Linked DNA regions of Homo sapiens: all the other regions are linked to region 3. Evidence: fine-mapped expression QTL. A gene starts in region 3. Each other region holds a variant in brackets. All regions are shown on one strand. Distances are between the middles of the regions.

Region 1 (5,101 bases), 29 kb before region 3:
TGCTGCAAGGAGGCTGAGGGAGGAGGATCACTTAAGGCCAGGAGTTTGAGGTTGCAGTAAGCTAAGATCCCACCACTGCACTCCAGCCTGGGTGACAGAGCAAAACCTTGTCTTAAGAAAAATTAAGAAAAAAAAAAAGAATCCCAATGGGGCTCAAAGGCTGGGTGACAGTCCTCAGCACATCCCCCTCTCATAATGGGATAGACCTTCTTTCCAAATAAAGAGTCCTCTCTCAAGTAAACAGAGCTTCCCTCTATCCCTGATTAAAACTGGAAAGTGGCAAGAAGAAAATGTGTCAAGTAGGAAGATGCACATACAGGATGTGTTCATGCAGGGATATAACATTGATGGTGACCTTGTGTGAGCTACTTCACCTCCCCTGGCCTCAGTTTCCTCTTCTACAAGGTATGGTTCATAGAGGTGCCCATTGCATTATCTTGTAAGAATGTAATTCGATGATGCATGGTGATGCCTAGAAGTCACCTAATCAATATTACCTGTGAATATCGTTCTTTTCTGCAATATTGTTTTTTAGCATGGTCCACATGGGAGGCCCTGGGGAGACAGCAATCATCAAGCAGACTTGGTTCCTGCCCTCGTGCTGCCTCCAGCCTTGTGGACATGCTGAAATGCTTTATATAGAATGTTAAAGAGAGCCAGATAAAAAATTATGCATAGAGCAAGATTCTAATTTTGTTTAAACACACACACTCACAAAGGCCCAAGGGATATACACCAACATGTAATGATAGTTAACACCAGATGATGGAATTGAAGGTGGCTTGCAGTTTTACAATTCTTTCCTGGCTTTTTTTTCCTTTTAAAATTTTCACAGTGGATTGTATTATTCGAATAGTCATTTTTGAAAAAATAAAGGAAAACAAGAATGCTTCTTTCTCTGACTCTCTGCCCATCACAAATTTCATCTGTTTCCTCGGGAACCAGGAGCTCCTGGCATTAGGGGCTGTTTGCTTGTACATTCCAGGGTCTACCCACCAGGCAGCCAGGTCTCAGGTCCTGGCCTCATTCCCTACTGTGGTGCACATTTGAAAAGGGGCTGGGGGTTGGGGTGGCCTCCATCAGAGCAACAAACCTGGACTGAATGATTGGTGAGTATGAAGAGGGGAGCCCTCTCTCAACCTGGGATCAGCTACCTGTGAAGACATGTTCTGTCCCAGGAGTCAGAGGGGAGAGGTCTGTGTTTATCCATCTACCTGTGATTGCAAAGGTAAGGCTGTCCAACTCTGAGGATCAGTGTTAGCAGTTCCATTTGCCTGCATGCCCAAGCCACGTTCTCTAAACAGCTTTATCTGTAATAAGCTGACATTTTGTTCCTCACCTCTTGACTCCTCGGTCTCCTACTGCTTCTGAACTTAAGTGAGGAAGAAAGCAACATTATATGTAGATGCCATAAAAATCACATAGTCCATACCTGGCTCCTAGAAATTGGCTATTAACAAAGAGATTAGACACCTATTTTTCTCAAGTTTCCTCTTTTTTCCTTTTGACACCTTGCTTTTCTCTTTTCCTTTTGACACCTAGGACTGTGAGATAGACCCAATGTTCTTGGAAAGATCTAGTAATCTCTCCTGTAGCGAACTTGACGGTATTGTCTGTCTGAGTCCCTTTTTCGGAAAATGGTCCCTCCTCCACACCATGTAAACTTGGGGTTTCCATCAAGATCACCAAAACAAGAGTGGTCATGGGTCCCATTCAGGACCAAAGTGATTTTCTGGGATGAGTATGTGGCATAGATATGGATACATAATATATGTAGGTATATGACATGTATATGATAGATATATATACATGGATGTATGATGTGTATAGAGGATATATGACATATATATGATATATATAGGATATACAATATATGACATATGTGATATGTACATGGATATATGATATATAGAGAGGATACATGATATATGACATACATATTATAGATGTACACAGATAAATGATACATATGCCTCGCTCCTGCCAGCCTTGCTGGGCTTGTTGCATACATGTTTGGGTGTACCTGCTGGTGGCCTGCTTCCCTACCACACATTGACAGCCTGCCTGGAGGCTAAAGCCAACCAGAAAAGATGACCCTGTTGAGTTCCTGTATCCAGCCATTCCTGAAACCACCTTCCTAGACCAGAACCAATACATTCCCTCTTTTCCTTAAGTAGTTTGAGTTGGGTTTTTATCAGTTGAAGCTAAAAGAATCCTGACTAGCATACTGCAGTGAATATATACCGGTTAGAAGGCTGTGACCACCCAGAATCCATGCCCCCTTCCTAAGTAACCCTCATTGTTTAGGAAAATCACCTCTCCTCCATTGAATTCACCTGGGGGAACTGCTGGGCATGACACTGCTCCTTCCTTCACTCCTAGGTCACTACCTACACCCCCACACAAGACCAGGTGAATTGGCCATGAATCCCTTCCAGGCCTGCCCATAAAACCTCCCCCATGCTCCTCCACACCCTG[T/C]CTTTTCCTCTCCTCTGCCGGGGGATGCAGAAGATCAAAAAAGAAATCAAGATCCCCTCCCCTGGATGGAAGGACCTGGGTCTCTGAGTGACCATGAGGAGTTGACCTACACTGGACTGTGACCTGAGTGACAAGTAAACAGATTATGAGTCACTGAGATTTGGGGGTTGTCTGTAACAGCAGTTATCCTGCCCTAACTAACACAATAGGCTGGCACATTGGAGAGCTACCTGAGAGCCATTATCCTAAGAGCTTTCCATTCAACCACGAATATTTACTGAGTCCCTATTCTGTGCTTGCAAAGCCCCCTGTGTTTCCTGTTCTCCTGCACTGCCCACGATTGCCTCTCTCCTCGTCTGGCTGTCTTCTCTCTCTAGACGGTAAGTTCCCCAAGAGATGGGTCCTTATCTGTCTTCATCCTCTGCACCGTGTCCCTGGTATCTAGTTTAGCATCAGGAACATAGCAAGTGCTCCGTATTGATTGATTGGATTTGCAAAATGACCAGATGCATAAAGTTGTCATGAGGCTTAAGCGAGGTTCTGATTGTGAAGCGTCATGGCACACAGGAGGTCCCCTGCAAATACAGTAAAAATGAGCTAAATCAAGGTGCATGTGGGCTGGGCAAGGCTTTCAGTGGGAGGGCAGATTTTAGCCAGGACTTATCCTGCCCTATACCCTACAGAGAGCTAAGTTATCTCTGGTCCTGGCTGGTCCCAGGCTCTATGCAGGAGGAAGGATGGGGACCAGCTGCTTCCTGGAGGGAGCCCCAGTCCCAGAGGCTTTGAGCTGTGGTAGGGGTGAGGCAACACTTCAGGAAATAACATTTCAAAGGCTTTGGCTGTGAGAGCAGACTTCTCACCCCTGTCTTGTGTGGAGGTGGGTGTGGGATGCCTGGTGTGCCTCTGGGGTAAAGCATCCCTTTCACGGTTTGAAATCTCATCTCGGGAAAGCTTAACTCCTTGTACCCCATTCTACTGGCTATAGACAGGCTCCAGGGATTTAGCCCAAGACTCCTAGGATAATGTCCAAACTCCATACCTGGGGTAGGAATGGGGGCAGGTGCAGCATGTCCAGCATGATGCAGCAGTTAACAGCCTGGGCTCTGGAGGCAGAATGCCTGGGTTCAAATCCTGGCTCAGTTCACATGGTAGCTGTGAGACTTTGGATGACTCAGCTTATCTGGACCTCAGTTTTCTCATCTGTAAAATGGGATTATAATAGTAACACACTAGAAGATTGTTAGGAAGATGACCTCGCTTTGACAACTAATGGAGTGTTCTTTTCTTTTCTTTTCTTTTCTTTCTTTCTTTCTCTTTCTTTCTTTCTTTCTTTCTTTCTCTTTCTTTCTTTCTTTCTTTCTTTCTTTCTTTCTTTCTTTCCTCCTTTCCTTTCCTTCCTTTCCTTTCTTTCTTCTTCTTTTTTCTTTTTTATTTCAGATCTCACTCTGTGCCCAGGCTGAAGTGCAGTGGTGTGATATCAGCTCACTGCAACCTCTGCCTCCCAGATTCAAGCAGTTCTCCTGCCTCATCCTCCCAAGTAGCTGGGACTACCAGTGCGCACCACCACACCCAGCTAGTTTTTGTATTTTTTTTAGTAGAGATGGGGTTTCACCATGTTGGCCAGGCTGGTCTCGAACTCCTGACCTCAAGTGATCTGCCTGCCTCAGCCTTCTGAAGTGATGGGATTATAGGCATGAGTCACCACACCTGGCCAAGTGTGTTTCTTAAATGTTTTAATTCCTAACATGGTAACTATCAATAGATAAACTGACATAAACAAAATTCTTTGGGGTCCACAGTAATTTTTAAGAGTATAAAGGGGTCCTAAAACCAAAACATTAAAATCCAGTCTCATGTGATAACTTCACACTACACATGCCAGATGATTCACCTGGCGTCAATTCTTCACTTCCTCCTCTCCTCCCCCGACCGGCCATGACCTAGTTTGGACCCTGTGCTCTGTCCAAATGAGCAACTGAGGCACCTACCCAAGGAGGCCATGAGGATTCCTCCCTCCACACCCCTGAACAGCAGCTGTCTACCCTGAATTCTGTGGTTTCACTATCCTTAACGAAATTGTACTTACTCTGCAAGGCCCAGGGGCTTCTGCCTCCTGCAGGAAGCCTGGCTGACTGCCCTAAATGGAGCCCTTGGTCCTCTGAGCTCACACAGCACTGCCCAGTCATGAGGGCAGATGGCCAAGGCAGCTTCATCAGTTTTGCTTGTGAAAGCCCATCTTCTCACTAGACTGCACGCTGCCTCTGGCTTTGGGGTCAGAACAGAGCTGAACTGGGTCATGTTGGGCAAGTCGCTGTCCCTCTCTGAGCCTGTTTCCTTATCTGCAGAATGGGGTAATTATGAGACTTACTGTGCAGATCTTGTAAGGACTGGATGAGCAAATGCACTGGATTAATTTGCTAGCGCTGCCATAACGAAGTATCACACTCGACCAGCCGCTGTGGCTCATGACTGTAATCCCAGCACTTTGGGAGACTGAGGCGGGTAGATCACTTGAGGTCAGGAATTCAAGACTAGCCTGGCCAACATGGTGAAATCTCCTCTCTACTAAAAATACAAAAATTAGCAGGGCATGGTGGCGGGTGCCTGTAATCCCAGCTACTTG
Region 2 (5,101 bases), 49 kb before region 3:
GGGCACATCCCTGGTGTACAGGAGCAATGGCCACCGTGGCTAGGACACGTTCTAGGGGGAGAGTGGTGGGCTTGGAATGGTGAAATCCCTTGCCTCACAAGTAGGGCAGCTGAGAGCAATATCTTGGGCCTGTCTGACTGTAAAGTGAAGCTTTTAACTGCAAAGGGCCTGACACTCTTTCTAGTGAGGAAAGCCAGAAAGGGTGAGCGTATGTTATTACCAGGCATTGCGCCAAACACGTTGGGGAATCACATGGGGGAAGCCCCCACCCTTCTGGGGCTGCTGCTGCCGTAGAGAGGAAGGGAAACTGAGAAGTCAGCTAAGAGCCTGAGCAGATACTATAAGAATCCATCGTGATTGCTGTTTTCCGTTTCTCTGTGTGTTGGTTGTGGAAGGAGTCTTAGCACGTGTACACACAGCATGTGCATTCCTACCTCTGAGTGTGTCTGCCTGAGTGTTTATGGCTGCATAGGGGTCTTGAGTCTGCTGCCCACAAGTTAAACAGTGGTTTACTTAGCCCTCCCCAACTGTGTGAATGCAAGTGTGCATGGGCATCTTCATCTTGTCTTTGTGTTTATACATCTCTGTGTTTATACATCCCTTGTCTTTGTGTTTATACATCCCTTTGTGTTTATACATCGTCTTGTCTTTGTGTTTATACATACCTGGGAAGGTATCCATGTTCATCAGGAGGCATGTATCCATGTCTGCATGTCCAAAATGAGTGTGTGTCATTGTGCATGTGTTTCATGGATCTGCACAGCTGTTAAGAGTTCTGTCTCTGTAGCCTGACTCCCTGGGTTGGAATCTAGGTCTGCCACTTACTGGGTATGACCTTGAGCAAATTACTCAACCCCCTCTCTGCTTCACTTTCCTTATCAGTAAAATGGGCATATTAATAAAACATACCTTATAAGGTTGTTGTGAGGATCAAACAAATGAATATATGTGGAATGCTCGGATTGATGCCTGGCACATACTAGGAGCCATGTGTGAGCCGTTGTGATGTTAGGGCTCTTTCTGCGTGCATGTGTCTGTCTGGGTCTATCTGGCTGACTGAGCACACTTGCCCCAGCTGATATGCCTCGTAGCATGCAAGTTGGCATGCCTAAGTTCACACCTTACCTACGTCTCTGTGTGCACAACCTCAGTCTTAGCCCCGCATGTGCAGTGCCCAGCCTCCTCTGCCTGACAAGAGCAAATGTGGCTGGCTGGGGTGGGGACTGGAGGAAGGGCCAGCAGGAGGGGGCTCCTGCCATGGCCTGGCCAGCTGGACTTTTCACAGCCCAGTGACTTTGTCCCTCTGATCGGCCAAGTGGCTAGACAGGCAGGCAAAGGAAGTGCCCCTCTTCCAGGCTGTCCCCGGCCTGTGCCATCTCTATCCCTGATCACAGGGATTGGGTTTACACGCCTGATGCCCCTCGGGATTGGGGGATCCAAGAGAGCAGAGTCAGGCCTGAGCCACCTTTGTGTCCCCACATCATAGCTGTCACTGTTAATGATGGCTAACACTTACTAAGGACTGGCTGAGAGGCAGGCACTGTATTGGTTCTGTATTGATACATGGTCTAACTTGCCAATCCTCATGCCATTTCCCTGAGATAGGTCCTTCCATTGTCCCCACTTCATGGGTTTGGAAACTGAGGCACAGAGAAGCGAATTGTTTACTTAACTCACACAGCTGGTAAGTGAAGAGACCAGAATCCAAGCTGATTAAATACATGTTAAGTGACCCAGCTCATTGAATGAGACACAGAAGAGCCATGTTTGGGATGGAGTGGAAAGATGGAGAACAAGGTGGAGAGTGGTTCTGGCAGAGGAAGGGGCCAGCTTGGCTCTCTGCAGGGGAGCCCTGGGAATGGGAAGGAAAAAGTGGATGGGGCCAGATGGTAGGGGTCTGGAAGGCCAAGTGGGGAAGCTTGCATCTGAGCTGGCTCTACTCTTCAGAGACCTGGCCACAGTGAGGTGCCATGGGGACCGGCCACCTGGATCCTTCATTGTGAATAAACTGGTGAACTGAGCCCAGGTCTCTGGGAGAGCTGGTAGCTAAAGGCAGACTAACAGAACAAAAGCTCTGCTGTCAGTCTGAGGTTGGAATCCCAATGCCCTCACCCCCTGGTCACTTCCTACTATGAAACTTCCATTTTCTCATCCAATTCAACTTGTTAAAATGGTTAAAGTCATCCATTATCCCAATGTCTGACATATAGTACTCAATAAATGATCATCCACTCTGAAACAGGGGCTTTCAAATAATGGTAATAAATAGATTAAAGGATCTAGCAGAAAAGGTAGACAACATACATAAACAGATGGGAAGTTTCAGAAGAGAGAAGGAAACTATGAGAAACAAAAGAGAGAGAGAGCTGACTGGAAGTGCTGGAACCAGCAAGAAAAAGATAATATCAAAGAGGAAGAATTCTGTTGATGGGATTAGCAACAGACTGGACACAGAGGAGGAAAGTGAAACTTAGTGATGGGTCAACAGAAATTCTCCAAACTGAAAAGAGAAAAGAATGAAAATTCACAA[C/T]GTAGCTTTCTTAGATTTGTTAAGAGGGTGAAGGCCAGTGTCAGACACATTGGATTAAGTAGTACCATTCCTTCAACCATTTAACAGAAGTACATTGAGCTCCTATTATGCACCAGACAGTGTTTACAGTGCTAGAATCTCAACAGTGATGAAAAGGACAAGGTCCCTGCCCTCAGGGAGCACACAACCTAAGGGAAGGATCAGACTCCTAAATAAGTAAAATACATACATAGTATATTAGATGGTGTATTAGTCTGTTCTCATGCTGTTAATAAAGACATACCTGAGACTGGGTAATTTATAAAGAAAAGAGGTTTAATTGGCTCACAGTTCCACATGGCTGAGGAGGCCTCACAATCATGGCAGAAGGTGAATGAGGAGAAAAGTCACGTCTTACATGGCGCAGGCAAGACATCTTGTGTAGGGGAACTCCCCTTTATAAAACCATCAGATCTCATGAGACTTATCACCATCATGAGAACAGCACAGGAAAGACCAACCTCCATGATTCAGTTACCTCCTACTGGGTCCCTCCCATGACACATGGAAATTATGGGAGCTACAGTTCACGATGAGATTTGGGTGGGGACACACCCAAACCATATCAGGTGGTGATGTGTCCTATGGAGAAAAAGCACGGGAGCAGGCCAAGAAGAGTAGATTCAGGGGATGCAATTTTAAATAAGGCGGTAGGTCAGGGAAGGCCTCAATAAGAAGGTGACATTTGAGCAAAGACCCAAGGGAGGTAATAGAGGAACCAGGCAAATATTTGGGGGAAGAGCATTCCAGGCAAAATGAACAGCTGGTGCAAAGGTCCTGGGGCATAAATGTTCACAGACAGTTATGCCCCAGGGAAAGCCCAGAGGCTGAGGTGGCCAGAGAGGAATGATCTTGAATGATGGAAAACAAGGTCAGAGAGGAAGGTAAATGGGAGGTGGCCCCCCACCACCCCAGGAGGGAAGCAGATTATCATGTAGGGATTTTGGCTTCAGCTGTGAGATGGAGGCCTTTGGAGGATTTCCTTCAAAAGAGCCACATGACCTGACTTCTGTTTTAACAGGATTCCTCTGGCTGCTACCTGGAGAATGGACTGGAGGGGCCCAGGGTGGAAGCAGGGAAGCCAGTGGAGAGTCTGTGGTGACGATCCAGGTGAGATATGGCACCTGGGATGAAGGTGGTAGCCATAGAGATGATGGCAGCTTTTAGATTTGGGGTGCATTATGATGGCTATGCTGATGTCAGGAGAGCTCTTATTGTTTTTATATGTGTTGCTGTTATTAGGGCTAGCCAGGCTCCCACAAACTTTTTTCAAGGAGCCCCAACCCAGACAAGCAGGAGTGAAGCTGCTCACCTGGCCCCACCTGCCAGGGGAATCTTGCTGCACTTGTTGGGTAGCTGGTGGCCAAGGTCCATCTCCCCAGAGCCCAGCCCTGTAGGCTCCTCACCCTCCAGGCAGCCCAGGGCAGCTGCAGGCTCAAGGTTGCTCTGAGCAGCCCCCAGCTCCACAGCTGTAAGGTTCTAGTTGTTGGTTTACTCAGAGGCAGCAGATTCATCTGGAGAATCTGGTCCCTGCAGCCCCAGGTGCCCTCATCTCACTTCCTAAACATTCATGAGAGGGGAGGCGGGCAACCTCCTCAAGACACCTCGACTCAGATGCCTGATTCCTGCCGCCACTTGTCCACAGCACTGCCCCATCTGGCTCCTGCCCTCCACCTGACGGCTGTCATGGGCTCCTGCTGGTACCCCTGCATCCATCCAACCCTTTCCCATCCACCCCACTAAGAGCAGGAATGGGCCATTCTGAAGAGGGTGACAATGTCACTCAGCGAGTGCTTAAAACTCCACCATAGCTCCCCCTGGCCTGGGATAACATCTAGAACATTAATAGTGGCCTTCAAGGCCCTGTGTGATCTGGTCCCACTCTTCATGGCCTTCTTGTCCCCCCACCCCACCACCACAGTACTTGCCAGCTGTAAGAAGCTGTACCTAAAGCACCCCTGCAGAACTTTGCACAGTTGCTCCTCCAGGTTGCTCTAGCATGGAATCCTCTTCCTGCCCTTCTCTACCTGGCAAACTCCCACTTCTCTGTCACCTCCAGGGTCACTGCCGTCTTCTCCAGATGGCTGGAACTCACCCCAGGCTAGGCTCCCTGCTGGCTCCCACAGCTCCCTCTGCTCTCCCTCCTTATTCAGCTGCACTATATTACAAGGATAATGACAACACATTGGCAGGCATGCCCTGCTCCCATTGTCCATGGCAGACATCACTAAACGATCAGGGTGTTCTTCCCCCCTGAGCCCGGATATGGCCTCAGGAATGCAGCATTCTAGAGCTCATGGTAATCAAAAAGAGGTCGGGTGCAGTGGCTCACACCTGTAATGCCAGCACTTGGGAGGCCAAAGCGGAAGGATTGCCTGAGGTCAGGAGTTCGAGACCAGCCTAGCCAACATGACAAAACTCTGTCTTTACTAAAAAAAATAAAATAAAAAATTAGCTAGGCATGGTGGCGGGCACCTGTAATCCCAGCTACTCAGGAGGCTGAGGCAGGAGAATTGCTTGAACCTGGGAGGC
Region 3 (5,101 bases):
CCTGCCCCCCTGCACAACAGCAGGGCCATGCCTTCACCAGGAGGCTCGGGGCAGGAGGGGAGGCAGTGGTGTTACTTTGCACAGGTCTTTAACCTGGGAATCAGGAATTCAAATCTTGTTTCTACCCCAAGCTTTGCTGTGTGGCCTTAAGCAAACCTATTCCCTCTCCGGGCCTCAACTTTCTGTCCATTTACAGGGTTGGGCCTTCTCTCACCTTGTGTCATTCCTGTCCTCTTAACCGCCACTGTGTGAACCAAAATTCTCTCCCATTAGCAGCGGGGTCTTGAACTTGTGTTCCTCCCACAGTGCGGAGCCTTCTGCCAGGTGACCACGACACTGGCACTCCCCATCACTGACCTGGCTACTACAGGAACGGCGTTCCCTCCGGGAAAACCGGGGTTCTGTCCTCTCCAACTCCAGGCCTCTGGCCCCGGCTCCCCTTCCCCTCATCTTCCTCAGGGCTTGTCCTTCTCCCGGAACCCAGGCCTTCAGGGCCCCGCTCTCCCACACACGCCCCGGCCTGGGCCTCCCACCCGCCCAGTCCGCCCTCCACCACCGAGACACCTGGCCAGGGGGCCTCCACCTCCCTGGGAAGGCCCCGACCCTTCCCCTCTGGTTGCGCGCCACAGCCCCCTTCTCGCTCCCTCTCCTCCCCGCGCCTCTTTTCCAGGCGGCACCGAAGTCCTTCCTACACACACGCTATTTTTGTACCATCATCTCTTCTTCCTCTCCCCTTCCCCCTGCGTTCACTTACTTCCTTCTTTTCCTTCACCTCGGCCCGGCTCTGAAAGGATCGGGCCCCTCCGGCCCGCACCCACCCCCAAGAGGGGCCTTCAGCTTTGGGGCTCAGAGGCACGACCTCCTGGGGAGGGTTAAAAGGCAGACGCCCCCCCGCCCCCCGCGCCCCCGCGCCCCGACTCCTTCGCCGCCTCCAGCCTCTCGCCAGTGGGAAGCGGGGAGCAGCCGCGCGGCCGGAGTCCGGAGGCGAGGGGAGGTCGGCCGCAACTTCCCCGGTCCACCTTAAGAGGACGATGTAGCCAGCTCGCAGCGCTGACCTTAGAAAAACAAGTTTGCGCAAAGTGGAGCGGGGACCCGGCCTCTGGGCAGCCCCGGCGGCGCTTCCAGTGCCTTCCAGCCCTCGCGGGCGGCGCAGGTCCGGGCCCGGCAGGGACGGGGAGGGGCAGAGCGGGACCGGTCGGGGCTGGGGACCAGCCGCGCGGGCTTCTGAACGGGCACGCTGTCGGAGCCGGAGGCTCGTCTAGTCCCGAGCCCCAGCGGGCCGCGGCGGCTCGCGGGGCCGCCTTCCCGGGACAGCAGCCGGGGCCCGGGCGCCGGCGCGGGGGAGGACGCTGCCCTCCCCGGCCGGGCGCGCAGCTCGCAGCCCTCGCTCCCTCCCCCGGGGCGCGCAGGCGGGCGCTCGCTCGCAGAGAAGGTGCCGGCGGGGCCGGAGCCCCGAAGCCTCCCCGGGCGGCGGGAAGACGGGAGGAGGGGAAAGGGAAGGAGGGAGGGGGTCGGGCTGCCGGGAGGGCGGGGGCAGCGGCCGGGACTGCGGGCCGGGAGCGAGCCCAGCCGCCCGCGCCGTGTGGAGCCCGGGCGGGGCAGGTGGGCAGCGGCGGGGGCGGCTCCGCGCGGCCGGGCTCGGCCGTGCTGCCCCTCGCCCCTGCTCGCGCGGTCCTCTCTCCCGCGCGGTCTGTCGGTCTGCGCGCCGCCTCGCTCCTCGCTCCTCGCTCTCCCCCTCTTTCTCCCCCTCTCGCCTCTCCGTGTCTCTGGCTCTCTGCCTGGCTCCCTTGGGTCTGTTTCTCTCTCCTGCCGCCTCTCTCTGGCCGCCCCTGGCTTTATTTCTCGCGCGCTTGGGGTCTCTCCCAGTCTCCGTCTCTCCATTTCTCCTGGGGGGCGGGGAGGGGGGGTCTCCAAAAACCGCGGCGGCGGCGGCGGCCGCTCCAGGCGCCCGTTCCGGAGTCGGGGGGAGGCCCAGCCGGGAGGGGGGAAGGGGGGGAGCCTTAGTCATTTCCCCGCTCCAGCCTGCTCCCGCCCGAGCGCGCACTCACGGCCGCTCTCCCTCCTCGCTCCGCAGCCGCGGCCCATGGAGCCCGCCGGCCCGGCCCCCGGCCGCCTCGGGCCGCTGCTCTGCCTGCTGCTCGCCGCGTCCTGCGCCTGGTCAGGTAAGCACCCCCCCGCTCCCCACCGCTGCACTCCCCAAACTGCGGGCTCAGGCCTCTCAGACTGGCACTGGGACCCCTTCGGCTAATGCCGAGCAGTAATAGGGGGAGAGACGCCTGTAACCAGGGTTATAGATGCAGAAACTGAGGCCCAGAGAGGGCCAGCGACATGCCCAAGGTCACACAGCCAAGGGTAGAACCCAAGTCTCTTCTATGAGAGTTTGTCTCTGTGGACTCTGACTCTGTGCACTGTGCTGGGCACTGAGACAAAAGAGCCGAGTTGCTTCACTCAGCCCCTGCCCGGTCCAATGGGGAAGGCTGACTGACAGTGGCTTTCAGAGCAGGGCCGTCCGGCTTCCCCAGAATCTGTCCCCATGGACATACGACTTTCCACATGTTTGACTTCAGGGTGTGAGGGGAGGAGGTGAGGGCAGAGGTCCTCCCGATGCTGCCTGGAATGGAACAGAGACAAGCTGTTGCAATTAGGGAAGAGTGAGCCCTCCCTCTGGTGCGCAGAGTAAACCGGTGTTAGTGTGTGCCTGGGAGAGAGGGAGCCGGGAGGCCGCGGTAACCCCAGAGCGAGCTGCTGCGAGCAACAGATCCTTATGTAAAAACACGGTGGATTGTCCCTGTGGTTGCCAAAGCCTCTCCCTGGTGGTCTTGCTCCTTGAGGCGCTCCCAGCTCCCCCTTCCTCCTGCCTTCCCCGAGCTTCCAGGCAGCTCCCTGCAGTTCAGGTGCTCCGCGGGGATGTTACCTGTGGCTCTGACCATGTCTTTCTGTTGGCCTACATCAAACACCTGGCTGTCGCCGGCAGGCGGGCTCTGAAGGCTACTGTGCATGTTCACCAAAGGGTGAGGTCACCATTCAGGAGTCTTGCTTCTTAAATGGGTTTTGCAAAACCATGGGTCTCCTGGGAGGGCACCGGGTGGGGGGCGGGGGGAGCAGAGAAATGGCATTAAGGGAGTTGGGAGGGAGAGAAAAATGGGGATCTTGTTTTTTGTCGTCTTGAAACTGTGTTGTAGGCAGTGGGGTCTCTCTGTACCTCCCACCCTTGAGGAGGGAGGTAAAGATGAGCTCAGTGTCCAACACCCCCTTTTGCGTTTGACTAGAGATGGTAACCATCTGATAGCAGGGAGAAAGGGAGAACTAGCAAAGAGTGGGTGGAAGGAGAAGTATGGGGGGTAGACAGCTGCTTCTCTCTGCCCTGCAGTTTCCCCTGAAACCCAGGAATTCACATAGGCATCCCCCCACCCCACCCCACCCTCCACCCCCAGTTCTTTTCAGTTATAGTTGCGTCCTTGCTGGGCTGAAGGGAGCACTGATACAGTTCACGTCTCTCCAGTGAGTGGCATCTCCTATCTGCTCCTTCCTGCCTGAGCTGGCCATTTGTACCCTGCAAAAGTCCGAGTTCCTGCCCTGCCATCCTTCCTGGCCTGGAAATGCACAAGTGTCACTCACAAGTGCTTAATTTTCCTGAAGCAGGGAATTGGGCCCGAGTTAATTTCTAAATGTCTATTCCAGACCCTTCTCCGACCAGGAGGCTGTGGTTCAGTCCCTGGCAAACGAGCAGTGACGCTGATTAGCAAGTGCTCCGATGGGCAGCCTGCCTTTCCTGGGGCACCGGCTGGGAACACCAACACCTTTCTTGTGAGCACATCTCCCCCTTTTGCCTATAAAAACAGTCTATAAGATGGTAAAGATTGGGCCATAAAACTTCCGTTCCAATCCATTCAGCATCAATAGCCTGAAAAAGTGGGAGCAGCAGAGGGGCCAAGATTAGCTTTGAAATAAATAAATCTTAGGAGGTAAGAATGAATTTCTTGGTCGAGGGTGGTGGGGAAGGGATGAGGTGCGACCATCATAGCTCAAGTCTCCCATTATCCTTCAGTATCTGTTCTTCGGGGTCCTGGTCACACCATGGGCCTGGGCAGGGAAGTCACCTGGTTTGGCTGAAGGATGGGGCCTCAGGCCCCTCCCCCTATTGCTCCAGACATGGAATTTACAACAAAGAAGTAGAGAGACAGGATATGAGGGTAGGAAGGTACAAGGAGGCAGTTGTCCAATTTTCTAAGAAAATGGATTTGTTCGAGTGAGAAACTAAAATGTCAGGTTTAGGAAGGCGGCTTTGGATTGAATGACTACTAGTGTCTCAGGCAGAACTGTCAGCCTGGGAGGTGTCACATGATTCCTGTGTCTTCACATGATCACTGTTTTGGGGGGGTGGGGCCAATCATGTGAATTATCCTGGGTGGGGGAGGCAAGAGAAGAAGTTTCTAAAGATTGCTTTTAGCACAAATGCTGCCAAAGGGAAATTCTAAAAAGATCCCAGTGAAGTCACCAACCTATGTTTTTGGACCCAATGTGAGGCCTGTTTCCTAAAACAACTGCACTGAGGGAGATTCTGAGGCTGGGAGAAGGGCAAGGGACTGAGGCCTGGGGACACCTGGCACCTGATTTTGTGTCAGCAGGGCCTGACGCTGAACCCGCAGGATGCCTGCTTGGCCCCAGGTAGGCCTTGAGACCTCTGAGTCACCCCCCAGGCCGACCTCAGATAAACTCCCATTCATTTCTTCTCTCTGGCCTGGAGGAGGCCAAGCCAAGTTGCAGTTCAGGCTCTGGGGAGCAGCGGGGCCCCCCAGTGAACCTCTCACCGTTTGGTAGAGGGTGGCACTCTGGGGGCTCCTCTGTACTTTCCTAAATGGTAAAGTTAATCTCACTTCCTCTTTCGTAAGAAGAGAAAACGGGGCGGGAGTGCTTTGGCTCAACACATCAGGCTGTTGGAAGTTCCTTTAAAGCCATAGTTTTCTCTGAGTACTTTCTGGCCTTTACCAACCCCTCGGAAACTCACGGTAATTCACGTCTGTACTTGCAGTCATGCAGCACCTATGCAGTGCTGGTGTGAACCATGTGTTGAGAGAAGGGAGGAAAACCAACATTCATT
Region 4 (5,101 bases), 58 kb before region 3:
TCCATAACGTCCACAGTCAGGGGCCCAGGCTGGCGAGCCCTCCCTTGAAGAACCCGCCAGTCTCCCTGGCAGGGGATGCAGACAAAAAATTGCTCACCAGCTCTTGAGGCTCCCATCAGAAAGAGACACACCTCACTTCTGCTCACAGATCTTGGCAGAAATCAAGTGCCAAGGACGTGCCTAACTTCAAGAAGGCTGGAAAGTACAGCCTCTCCACGCACCCCACATGAGGAGACCCAGAAATGGACCCAGATGGTGGATAGCACTCCTGACAACTGCGGCATGCGAACACGGCAAACGGTTGTAAAACAAAGGAATGAGGACACCGCTGGGTCTTGCAGCAAGCTTCTCCAGAATCCCTCCTGTGCACAGGGCTCAGGGAAGCCAGACAGGATTACACCCGGGGGTGGAGAAGCTGGAGAGAATGCATGTCACATGCACGCTCGGCCACTACCCTTTTTTATGGCCTCCATGGAAACAGAAGCAGAAACCAGAGGGTCCCTAGGAGCTCCAGCCACACCCACTTCTCATTCTCTGGGGACAAATGTCTGAGGGCTCCCTTCTCTCTCCATCAGGGTCCAGAAGCTGGCCAAGGACTGAAGAGGCTTTGGCTCAATTTATGACTTTATTACCAGTCGCCTTCCAGCTGTGAGCCTCCACTTCCCCAGCTGCAACAATCTGTGGGTCTCAAGGTGAGGTCCTGTGACTGGCAGCATCGCCATCACCTGGAAACTGATTAGAAATCCACATTCTCAAGCCCCACCCAGCTCTATTGAATGGGAAGCTCTGGTGGAGGATCCCAGAAATCTGGACTTCAACAAGTGTCTCCGGTGATTCTGATGCTTGAGGAATATAAGGCACAAACGAACTGAGATGTGCAAAGCCCGGGCCCGCACTGCTTTTCCAGCAGTCCTCCCCACCTGCATAAATGACAGTTTCATTCTGGTTTAAGCCAAAAACCTGGAGCCATCCTAGAGGGTTCTCAGACCCTAATCCTGTGGCTTAGCCTTTAGAATATATTCAGATCTTGGCCTCCCTCTCCACCTCCTTCACTCTGCGTGGCCCTAGCCTCTGCCATCTGACACCCACATACTACCTTGCCTTTCTAACCCCCGCTCCCTCTTCCTTTGAGCCCTGTAGTACATCCTCACTCCAGCAGCCAGAAGATGCTCTTAAAAACTCAATCAGATGATTCCACGCTTCTGCTCAGAACCTCCAATGGCTTCCATCTCACTCAGAAGAAAACCTGACAGGGCCGCCCTTGGTCTGATTCCCACTGACCTCTCCACCTCCCCAACGCCCTGCCGCTTGCTTGCCGTCTCCAGCTGCACTGACCTGTTCTCTGTTCCTCCAACATGCCAGGCACGCTCCCGCCTCAGGGCCTTTGCTCCCGCTATTTCCTCTGCCAGAAACCCCTCTCTAGTGATCCCCACACGGCCCAAGCCCTCACCTCCTTCAGATCACCGCTCAAATGTCACCTCCTCAGAGAAGCCTTCTCCGACCCCGCCATCCTGCGCTGCCCCCTCCTCTGGCTTTGTTTTTCTCCATAGCCCTCACCACCACCTGACACACATCTTTGTTGTTTCTCTGTTTATAGTCTGCCTCTCCCCACGAGGGTATGAGGGCCACGAAGCCAGGCACTGCCTGCTTTGTTCACTGCTGTATGCCTCCCAATGCCTGAATATTGCCTGGCATGGAGAAAGCCCTGGGTAAATATTTATTGAGTGAACAGACGGATAGGTAGGTAGACAGATGGATGGACGGAGAAATGCTCATTCCTTGGGCCTTGCTGTGGTCAGCACGAGGCAGCCCCCATGGGCACGCCCCAAGAGTTACACCACAGAAAGACCCCAGGATTGAGGGCTGGGTCCTTGTATGCCGCTCTGGGATCAGCAGGTCTGGGTTCAAGTCTCTTGAATTGACCTGAAGGAAATCACATAACCTCTCTGATCCTCAATTTTCTCATCTCTAAAATGGGGATGATGCTGATAATGTGTATCATGTGCCTTAACCTTATAGGACTGCAGCGAGGACTAAACAAGGTGCACGTGAAGGGTTGCAGCGTGATACCCAATACCTGCTAAATCCACAACACACAGGAATTACTGCTGCCCCTATTGCTTTGCTTTCTTCTCAATTTTGCCAGTGGCCTGGGGTACTTGGGCAGCCATAGGGCTTATTGGGAGTATAACTGGCTCCAAAGAAAGGGACTTGGGTTTGAATCCTTGCAGCTACTATCTCGCTATATGACTTTGTGCAAGTCACTAGCCCTCTCTGGGCCTCAATTTCTCCCTCTGAGCAATGGGAAAAGGGTATTGAAGGAGGTTGTTTTGTGATCCCTGCAACTTGCCTCCCCAAGTCCTTCTGGAGGACCAAGCCCACGCTCGCCAAGCCCTCTCCTCTTCGTGGCTGCAGTGGGGAGGCCCTGAAGCTGAGGAGGCTGGCTGGGGCTCATGCTGACTCCTCCCCTAGCCTCACTGATTCTGCAGGGAGGGAAGAGAGAGGCAGTACTGGGTTGTGGCTGAAAGCACCCCAACTCCA[T/C]GTCTAAACCGGAGTTCTCCCTCTGGTTTCTGTGATTTGAGTGAGTCACTTAACCTCTTGTGCCTTAGCATCCTCATCTGTGAAATGGGAATAATTATCACCTATGAGGATAAAATAAACTGCTGCGTGTAAAGTGTTTAGACAAGTGCTTGGCACACAATTATCACTATTATTATAATAGCTGCTATTATTTCTAACAACCACAGCTGGTCTCTGGACCAGGCACCATCAGAAGTTTTTATAAACTTTGATTTAATTTTCACAAATATTCTACGCCATTATTGTCTCCATTTGAGAGGTGAACAAGTTTGGCTCAGAGACTGAAGCCATTTGCCCAGGGTCCCACAGCTTGCAGGTGGAGCTGGGTTTGAACCCAGTGCACTCTCAAGCCTGGTTCTTTCCACTCACCATGCTGCTTTCCCTTCGCTCTCCGTTTTACTGATGGGGAGACAGAGGGTTACAGAGCTCACTCCCAGGCCTCAGTCCTGCTGGGCCCTTTCACCCAAAGCATTCCTGGATCCATGCAACATCGTACCTAGAGGCAGAACTAGAGGCCATGATGACTCCTATTCACAAAGAGGCTGCTCAGTGTGAGGGGCAGAGCAGAACCTGGCCTGGCTGCCAACAGGTGCATGGCCAGGTCTCCAAGGGAAGTGGCCCCAGCAGCTCCCAGGCAGCCAGCCCCCCCTCAGCTGGGCAGCCCCTGATCCTCCTCCCATCCCCCTGCTTTATGACCTGTTTTATGAGCGGGAGGCCTGGCAGCTTCCACGTTGCCATGGGAACCAGCCCAGTGCGGGCTCCTGGCAGCTCAATCAGGGATTGGCAATTTTAAGTCAGGAGCCAATCCTGGGGCTAGCGAGGGTTTCCATGGGTTGGGGTCTGTGGGCCCCAGGGATGCACAGTGCCTGCCTGACTGTCTGCCTCTCTCCTCTGCTCCAGCTCCCCAGGTGCCCAAAGAACTCAGGGACCCCACAGCTGGAAGATGACAGGCTGTTAGAGCCCTGGAGGAGCCTGGGGCAGCAGGGAATGACATGGACCACCGAGTGGGGGCTGGGAGAGCTGACAGAGCTGGACCGTGGACACACATGCTTAGGGGCACACAGAGACACTAGGACAGCTGACATGAAGGGACTCACAATGATATACAGATACAGACTCACACAGAGAAACAGAGATATGCACATGGCAGCCACATGTGCATAGCAAAGAAAGGTACTTGCAAACACACAGACATACACAAATCCATAGGAATACCTGGGTGCCCAGAGACTCACAGACACACAGACATCCAAAGACACACACAGAGGACACTTGGACACCCAGAGATACATCCAGACATACACATAGACACACAAAGGACGTACAGACACACACTGCTCACTGCCTGTGTGGTCCAGGCAGCTTGCCCAAACTCTCTGAGACCCAATCGCATCATCTTTCAAAAGGGCATCACAATCCTAGCTTGTGAGGACAGGGAGGAATAACGAGGAAAATGGCTGCGTGTGCTCAGACACCTTCATTCATCCAGCCAGACAATATTATTGAGCATCTACTATGTGCCATGTGCCTCCTCCGAGCTGAGAACAGGAAGCTAACAAGGACCTACCCTCAGGAAGCTCACAGTCTCCTTCGGAAGACAATAAATACAGGAACAAAGCAACAGCTAAGAGTGACTCGGAAGACAATAAATATAGGAACAAAGCAACAGCTAAGAGTGACTCGGAAGACAGTAAATACAGGAACAAAGCAACAGCGAAGAGTGACTCGGAAGACAGTAAATACAGGAACAAAGCAACAGCGAAGAGTGACTCGGAAGACAATAAATATAGGAACAAAGCAACAGCTAAGAGTGACTCGGAAGATAGTAAATACAGGAACAAAGCAACAGCGAAGAGTGACTCGGAAGACAATAAATATAGGAACAAAGCAACAGCTAAGAGTGACTCGGAAGACAATAAATATAGGAACAAAGCAACAGCTAAGAGTGACTCGGAAGACAATAAATATAGGAACAAAGCAACAGCTAAGAGTGACTCGGAAGACAATAAATACAGGAACAAAGCAACAGCTAAGAGTGACTCGGAAGACAATAAATATAGGAACAAAGCAACAGCTAAGAGTGACTCGGTGGAGGAACCGGTTAGGGTAGTCAGGGAACACTTCTCTGAGGAGGTGACATTCGCCTGAGACAGAAGGAATGTGATGGAACTGACCAGAAAGGGTAGAGAGAAGAGTGTCCCAGTTAGCGGGAACAGGAGGTGCAAAGGCGCTGAGGTCAGAGCAGGGCTCCATGTGGCCAAGAAGCCCCAAGGAGATCAGTGTGGCTGCAATGGAGGGAGGAGACAGGGGATGAGTTTGAGAGTAACTGGAGGCCGGAGCAGGCAGGGACTTGAAGACTGAGTGATGTACTGTGGGTTTCATTCTCCATAAAATGGGACCCACAAAAGTGTTTCTATCAGGGATCATCTGGTCAAAATCGCATTTTAAGTAGCTCACTTTGGCTGCTGGCAGGAAACTGCCTGGATGGGGCAAAACAGGACATCGGGAGCCTAGCATTGGG
Region 5 (5,101 bases), 58 kb after region 3:
GTCAGCATGGAAGAGCCTTGGGGAACTGAGTGGGGTGGGACAGGCTGAGGAGCCTTACGGGGCCTTGGTTTCCCTGTCTTGGCTACAGTGTGGAGCTCGGACATCCCCAAGGAGCCCACCGTCCACACATTGACGGTCGCTGCTTTTAACATAAAGTCCAGCTCCCCTAGTGAGGCACTGAAAGGCCCTGTCTGCCACCCCACCTCGCCTCCTGCCCAGCTCACACAGCCACCTGGAAGGACTTAAGAGTCCCTCCCAAAACAATCTCTTCTCACCTGTACCTTCACTCTTCTTGCCTGCCTTCCTTGTGTGCTGTTTAAACTCCTATTCACCCTTTATGCCTTTAATGCCACCTCCTCCCAGAAGCCTTCCCTGACCACTGCAGGAAGAGAGGCAGTTGCATTCACTTCCCTGTCACTTTGGGCCTCTTTGACAGTTTGATTACAATAAAATTACAGCTTATGCAAGTTTAACGTGTGCTTCAGACAAAAGAAAAAAGAAAAAATACAGAAAGAAAGACAAGAAGAGAGAAAGAAATTAAGTAAGGACCATGTGGCTCAATGGGCACACACCCTAAGTGGTTATGAGATAGAGGCAGAATCTGCTCTCTGAGGCTCAGTCCCCATAGGCCCCTCATCCTACAGCTACCTAAGGACAAGTCTTTAAAGATAAGCTGGAAAAAAACCCAAAAAACTGGCAGTATAGTGGGAAAGAATGAGGGACTTGGCAGACCAGACTACTCCAAATTCAGACTCCAGCTCCGCCACTTCCTGGCTGTACAACCCCGAGCAAGTTGCTAACTCCTCTGTGCCTGGGACTCCTCACCTGTAAAGTGGGCATAAGAAAAGTACCAACCTCATAAGGTTGTTGAGAGGATAAAATGAGCTTAACACCTGTGAAGTCCTCACAGTAGCTCCTAATCCACACTGGCACTAGATTATATTATGGTCCAGTATTACCCCAGCCAGTACCCTCTGTGGAAGGAAGAGGAACCTGCTCCTGGGCTGCAGGGAACCCCAACTGTGCTGGACTCACTAGGAGACTGAATATCAGTCCCCAACCTAGTGTCTCTGAGGATTTGCCAGGGGTACTTTTCATGACACTTGATTTTTGCTTTCCAAGCTGACTCGACTGGGTAGCACCCTCAGAGAAATCTAACCGTCAGATAGACAGTCCTGGGTGAAAATTCCCACCCACCATTTCTATAATAGTTGTGTGACCTTAAGCGAGTCACATTTTGTGTTAGCTCTGCTCGCTTCACCTGTCAAATGGAGACGATGATACCTACCCCCAGGGCATGAGGAGTTAACACCTGTGCTGATGCCTGCTACCTGGTAGACACCTGATACCAAGGCCGCTGTGATTAATTTACTCTTTCCACAGCAGCTGTTGTTACACTGTTTCATTTTCAGTTTACATGCTCTTCACCCCACAGCCTGGGAGCCCTCAAAGATGGGGACTCGTTCCAAGTCAGCTCAGGCTCCCATGGTCAAGTCTACACCAAAAACCAGGGAGGCACTCAAATATGAGAGGGGGATGGAGGGAGGGAGGGAGGAAGGAAAGGAAGGAAGGAAGGAAGGAAGGAAGGAAGGAAGGAAGGAAGGAAGGAAGGAAGGAAGGAAAAGAAGAAGGAAGGGAGGGAGGGAGAGAGAGAAGGAGGAAGGAATAAGAGGGGAAGGAAGGAAGGGAGGGAGGGAGGAAGGAAGGAAAAGAGAGAGGGAGGGAAGGAGGAAGGAAGGAAGAGAGGGAGGGAGGAAGGAAGGAATAAGCAATTAAATTCTTCATTCTCAGGCTCCGGGCTTATCTGACTGGTCAGAGGAATGGATCAGTAGCCCCCATTCATTCTCCTCTTTCTGGAGTCACAACTTAGGTTTGTAGCTGTCTAATTTATTATTATATGGTGCAGTGCAGGGTAATTATACACTGTGGTATAATTTGTTATAACTTGGGCTGAGGCCTATAACTGTATAATTTATTATTATACAGTACAGTGTTGAATAATACGAAGAGTATATAATTTATTTCAGGCTTACGAGCCTAACCTGTAATCCAAATGCAGCATGCAGCCTATGCAGATGAGTTAATGTTTCTACGGAAACCTCAACTTAGATATTTCTTCATCTCTAGTTCCTTTCTTTGGGCTTCTCAGAACACCTGTGTTACCAAGTTCCTGGTACTTTTTGTTTGGTGCAAGACTGACATGTTGGGTAGCCCTGGCCCAGGCTGAACCGGTCTTGCATATTGGGTCATGGGAAAGAAGGGTCCAGAGCTGTCACCCTGCCCAGTGACAGTTGTCATCACAGGGAGGCCGCAGCTTGCCAAAGGTATTACTGG[C/T]AGCAGATACAGAACCATGACCAGAACCCCCATTTCTGGGTCCCCAGGAATGAGGAGGCTTGCCGCACCTCCATCTATTTATTAGATAACTATTCTTTGCTCCGTTCTCAGCACTGGAAACACATCATGGGACCAGGCCCCTCGTGAAGCTTGCATTCTGGAGATTAAGAGCCTCCGTCTCTCTGGTCTCTTGTTTCTTAAAGTGTGGACTCTAGACCAGCATCTTCAGCATCCTCTGGGAGCTGGTTGGGAGTGCAGCATCTTAGCCGCAAGCCTCACTGAGTCTGCATTTTCTTTTTTTTTCTTTCTTTTTTTTTTTTTTTTTTTTTTTTTGAGAGGGAGTCTCGCTCTGTCGCCCAGGCTGGAGTGCAGTGGCGCGATCTCGGCTCACCGCAAGCTCCGACTCCTGGGTTCATGCCATTCTCCTGCCTCAGCCTCCCGAGTAGCTGGGACTACAGGCGCCCACCACCACGCCCGGCTGATTTTTTTGTATTTTTAGTAGAGACGGGGTTTCACCGTGGTCTCGATCTCCTGACCTCGTGATCCGCCCGCCTCGGCCTCCCAAAGTGCTGGGATCACAGGCGTGAGCCTCCGCACCCGGCCAAGTCTGCATTTTCACAAGACCCCCTGGTGATTCATTCACACTGAAGAAGAACTGCTGGAGTTGCTGTATGATTTAGGGGAACCATTTTCTTCTCTACTTCCCTTCTACCCAAAATATATACCATCTCACTGAGTATTGAAGCGGAGTTCCTTTTTTTTTTTTTTTTTTTTGAGACAGAGCCTCACTGTGTCTCCCAGGGGAGTGCAGTGGTGCAATCTCAGCTCACTGTAGTTTCCACCTCCCTGGTTCAAGCGATCCTCCCACCTCAGCCTTCCAAGTAGCTGGGATTACAAGCCTGTGCCACCACACCTGGCTAAATTTTGTATTTTTAATAGAGATGGGGTTTCACCATGTTGGCCAGGCTGGTCTTGAACCCCTGACCTCAAGTGATTCACCCACCTTGGCCTCCCAAAAAGTGCTGGGATAACAGGCGTGAGCCTCTGTGCCTGGCCCCTTCTTCTTTTTTTTTTTTTTTTAAAGAACATGTATTTTTTTCTTTTACTTTGGATGCAGAAGTTCATTATGTACCTTTTGGAATTATAAAACAAAAAAATATATATAAAAAAATCACCCAGAACCCCACCATTCAGAAGTGACACTGTTAATATTTTAATGACCAATCCATCAGACTTTTTTATACATACATATACTTTCTTTTTACAAAATTTCGAGAAAAGATGCAATAGTGTTGTATTCAGGCTCAGAAAATAATACCCCAGAATCTGGCGCTTTGACGTGCTGAACTGAAGAAGCGGTTTCAAGGTCTCTTTCTGACCTTGCCCTGCCTCCCTGTCTCTCTGATCCTCTTACTTTCCCAAAGCACCAGGAGGGGCTGTCGCTGGAATTTTCTTATCTGCCTAAGAAAGCTTCTTTCCAAGAGAAATGCAATTTCTTAAAACTCCCCGTCCCTAGGAATCTCATCAAATAACCAGGAAAGATTAACCACTGGAAAAGAGACTAGATGTAGTCACCGTGCTCAGACAGACTTTCATTTGTTTTTCTGAGAGCAGCTCCTAGAGATCACCTGGGACGCTTCATCTGCATAGTAAGACAATCTTTGTTTACAGTGAAGGTCTGCCCCTTACCTTCCCGCCACCTCCCCCAGAGCTCAGAAGAATTTTGTCTCAGGCAGTTGTTCTTTAGGATCACTCATTTCCCCTAAAAAGTCACTTACTCCTATACCTCCCATTTCCCCTTCCCCGATGAAGAAGGGCATATAAGGGTTATTGGGTAATCATTCTCCTATAATTCCCCTGTGTTACTCACATTAAATAATTTATTTTATTATTATTATTATTTTTTGAGAGGCAAGATGTTCTTCTGTTGCCTGGGCTGGAGTGCAGTGGCACAATCATAGCTCAACTGCAGCCTCAAACTCCTGGGTTCAAGTGATCCTCCTGCCTCTGATTACCAAGTAGCTGGGACTGTGGACACATATCACCATGCCTGGCTAATTTTTTAAAAAAATTTTTTGTAGAGACAGGATCTTGTTTTGTTACCCAGGGTAGTCTCAAACTTCCGGCTTCAAGTGATCCTCTCACCATGGCCTCCCAAAGTGTGGAATTACAGGCATGAGCCACCATGCCTGGCCTTGTTAAATACAATTTCATATGCCTTTTTCTTTTACTAATCTGTCTATTATAGTTCGTTTTCAGCAAACCTTAAGAGGACAGAGGAGAAGCTTCCCTTCGGCCCTTACAATTGCACAGTGGCTCTCAAAACTGAGCATACATTCACCTGGAAGGGTTGCTCAAACATAGATTGCTGGGCCCCACCCCCAGAGCTTTTGATCAGGAGGTCTGGGACCAGGCCTGGGATTTGGCACTTCTAACAAGTTCCAGGTGATGTGGGGCTGCTGGTCCAGGGACCACACCTTGGGAAGCACTGGACTCAGTGTTCTAAGATTTCCTGAGCACCAGTAGTTGGAATCCAGCTCTGCCACCCACTACCTGCCCACAGGGAAGTTAGGCTGCCTCTCCATGATGCAACTTCTGAGTCCACAAGGACAGTACCTGCCTCATAAGATTATTATTATTATAAGGATTATATGAGTTAATTAGTAAAGCACACAAGAAGTATTAATTATGATGAATATGCATATAATTGTTTAATCAAGATTTCTTAACAATTGTTCAAAAACATTTTTCAAGTCATTATTCTTCA

Direction of the effects. Alleles are on the strand shown, and positions count from the first base shown. SD is a standard deviation of normalised expression in the study named. Not every link is listed here.
With allele T in place of C in region 1, the expression in unexposed skin of the gene that starts at base 2,043 in region 3 is lower (small effect, 0.22 SD a copy in GTEx).
As copies of C replace T in region 4, the expression in monocytes of the gene that starts at base 2,043 in region 3 goes up (moderate effect, 0.56 SD a copy in BLUEPRINT).

The links. PIP is the estimated chance that this variant, and not a neighbour inherited with it, causes the effect.
Region 1: its variant is the best candidate, but not a certain one, in a credible set for the expression of SIRPA in unexposed skin (GTEx, PIP 0.67).
Region 2: its variant is the best candidate, but not a certain one, in a credible set for the expression of SIRPA in whole blood (TOPMed, PIP 0.90).
Region 4: its variant is the best candidate, but not a certain one, in a credible set for the expression of SIRPA in monocytes (BLUEPRINT, PIP 0.83).
Region 5: its variant is the best candidate, but not a certain one, in a credible set for the expression of SIRPA in whole blood (TOPMed, PIP 0.87).

Annotation. Positions count from the first base shown.
Region 1 is chr20:1,864,416-1,869,516 of GRCh38, forward strand. No RefSeq gene overlaps it. Among named protein-coding and RNA genes, the nearest start is that of SIRPA, 28 kb to the right of the region's middle. The variant T/C (reference allele first, on the strand shown) is at 2,479.
Region 2 is chr20:1,844,633-1,849,733 of GRCh38, forward strand. No RefSeq gene overlaps it. Among named protein-coding and RNA genes, the nearest start is that of SIRPA, 48 kb to the right of the region's middle. The variant C/T (reference allele first, on the strand shown) is at 2,531.
Region 3 is chr20:1,893,365-1,898,465 of GRCh38, forward strand. SIRPA (signal regulatory protein alpha) reads left to right here and starts at 2,043. Exons shown (of 8, transcript NM_001040023.2): 1 at 2,043-2,162. The coding sequence starts at 2,084. LOC102724545 (a long non-coding RNA gene) reads right to left here and starts at 886. Exons shown (of 4, transcript NR_186374.1): 1 at 755-886. RefSeq lists silencers at 1,007-1,266, 1,277-1,396 and an enhancer at 2,688-3,203.
Region 4 is chr20:1,835,426-1,840,526 of GRCh38, forward strand. LOC105372501 (a long non-coding RNA gene) reads left to right here. Exons shown (of 4, transcript XR_001754475.2): 4 at 1-1,116. Among named protein-coding and RNA genes, the nearest start is that of SIRPA, 57 kb to the right of the region's middle. The variant T/C (reference allele first, on the strand shown) is at 2,542.
Region 5 is chr20:1,951,560-1,956,660 of GRCh38, forward strand. All of the region lies in intron 2 of PDYN-AS1 (PDYN antisense RNA 1), which reads left to right. Among named protein-coding and RNA genes, the nearest start is that of PDYN-AS1, 6.9 kb to the left of the region's middle. RefSeq lists an enhancer at 2,954-3,043. The variant C/T (reference allele first, on the strand shown) is at 2,335.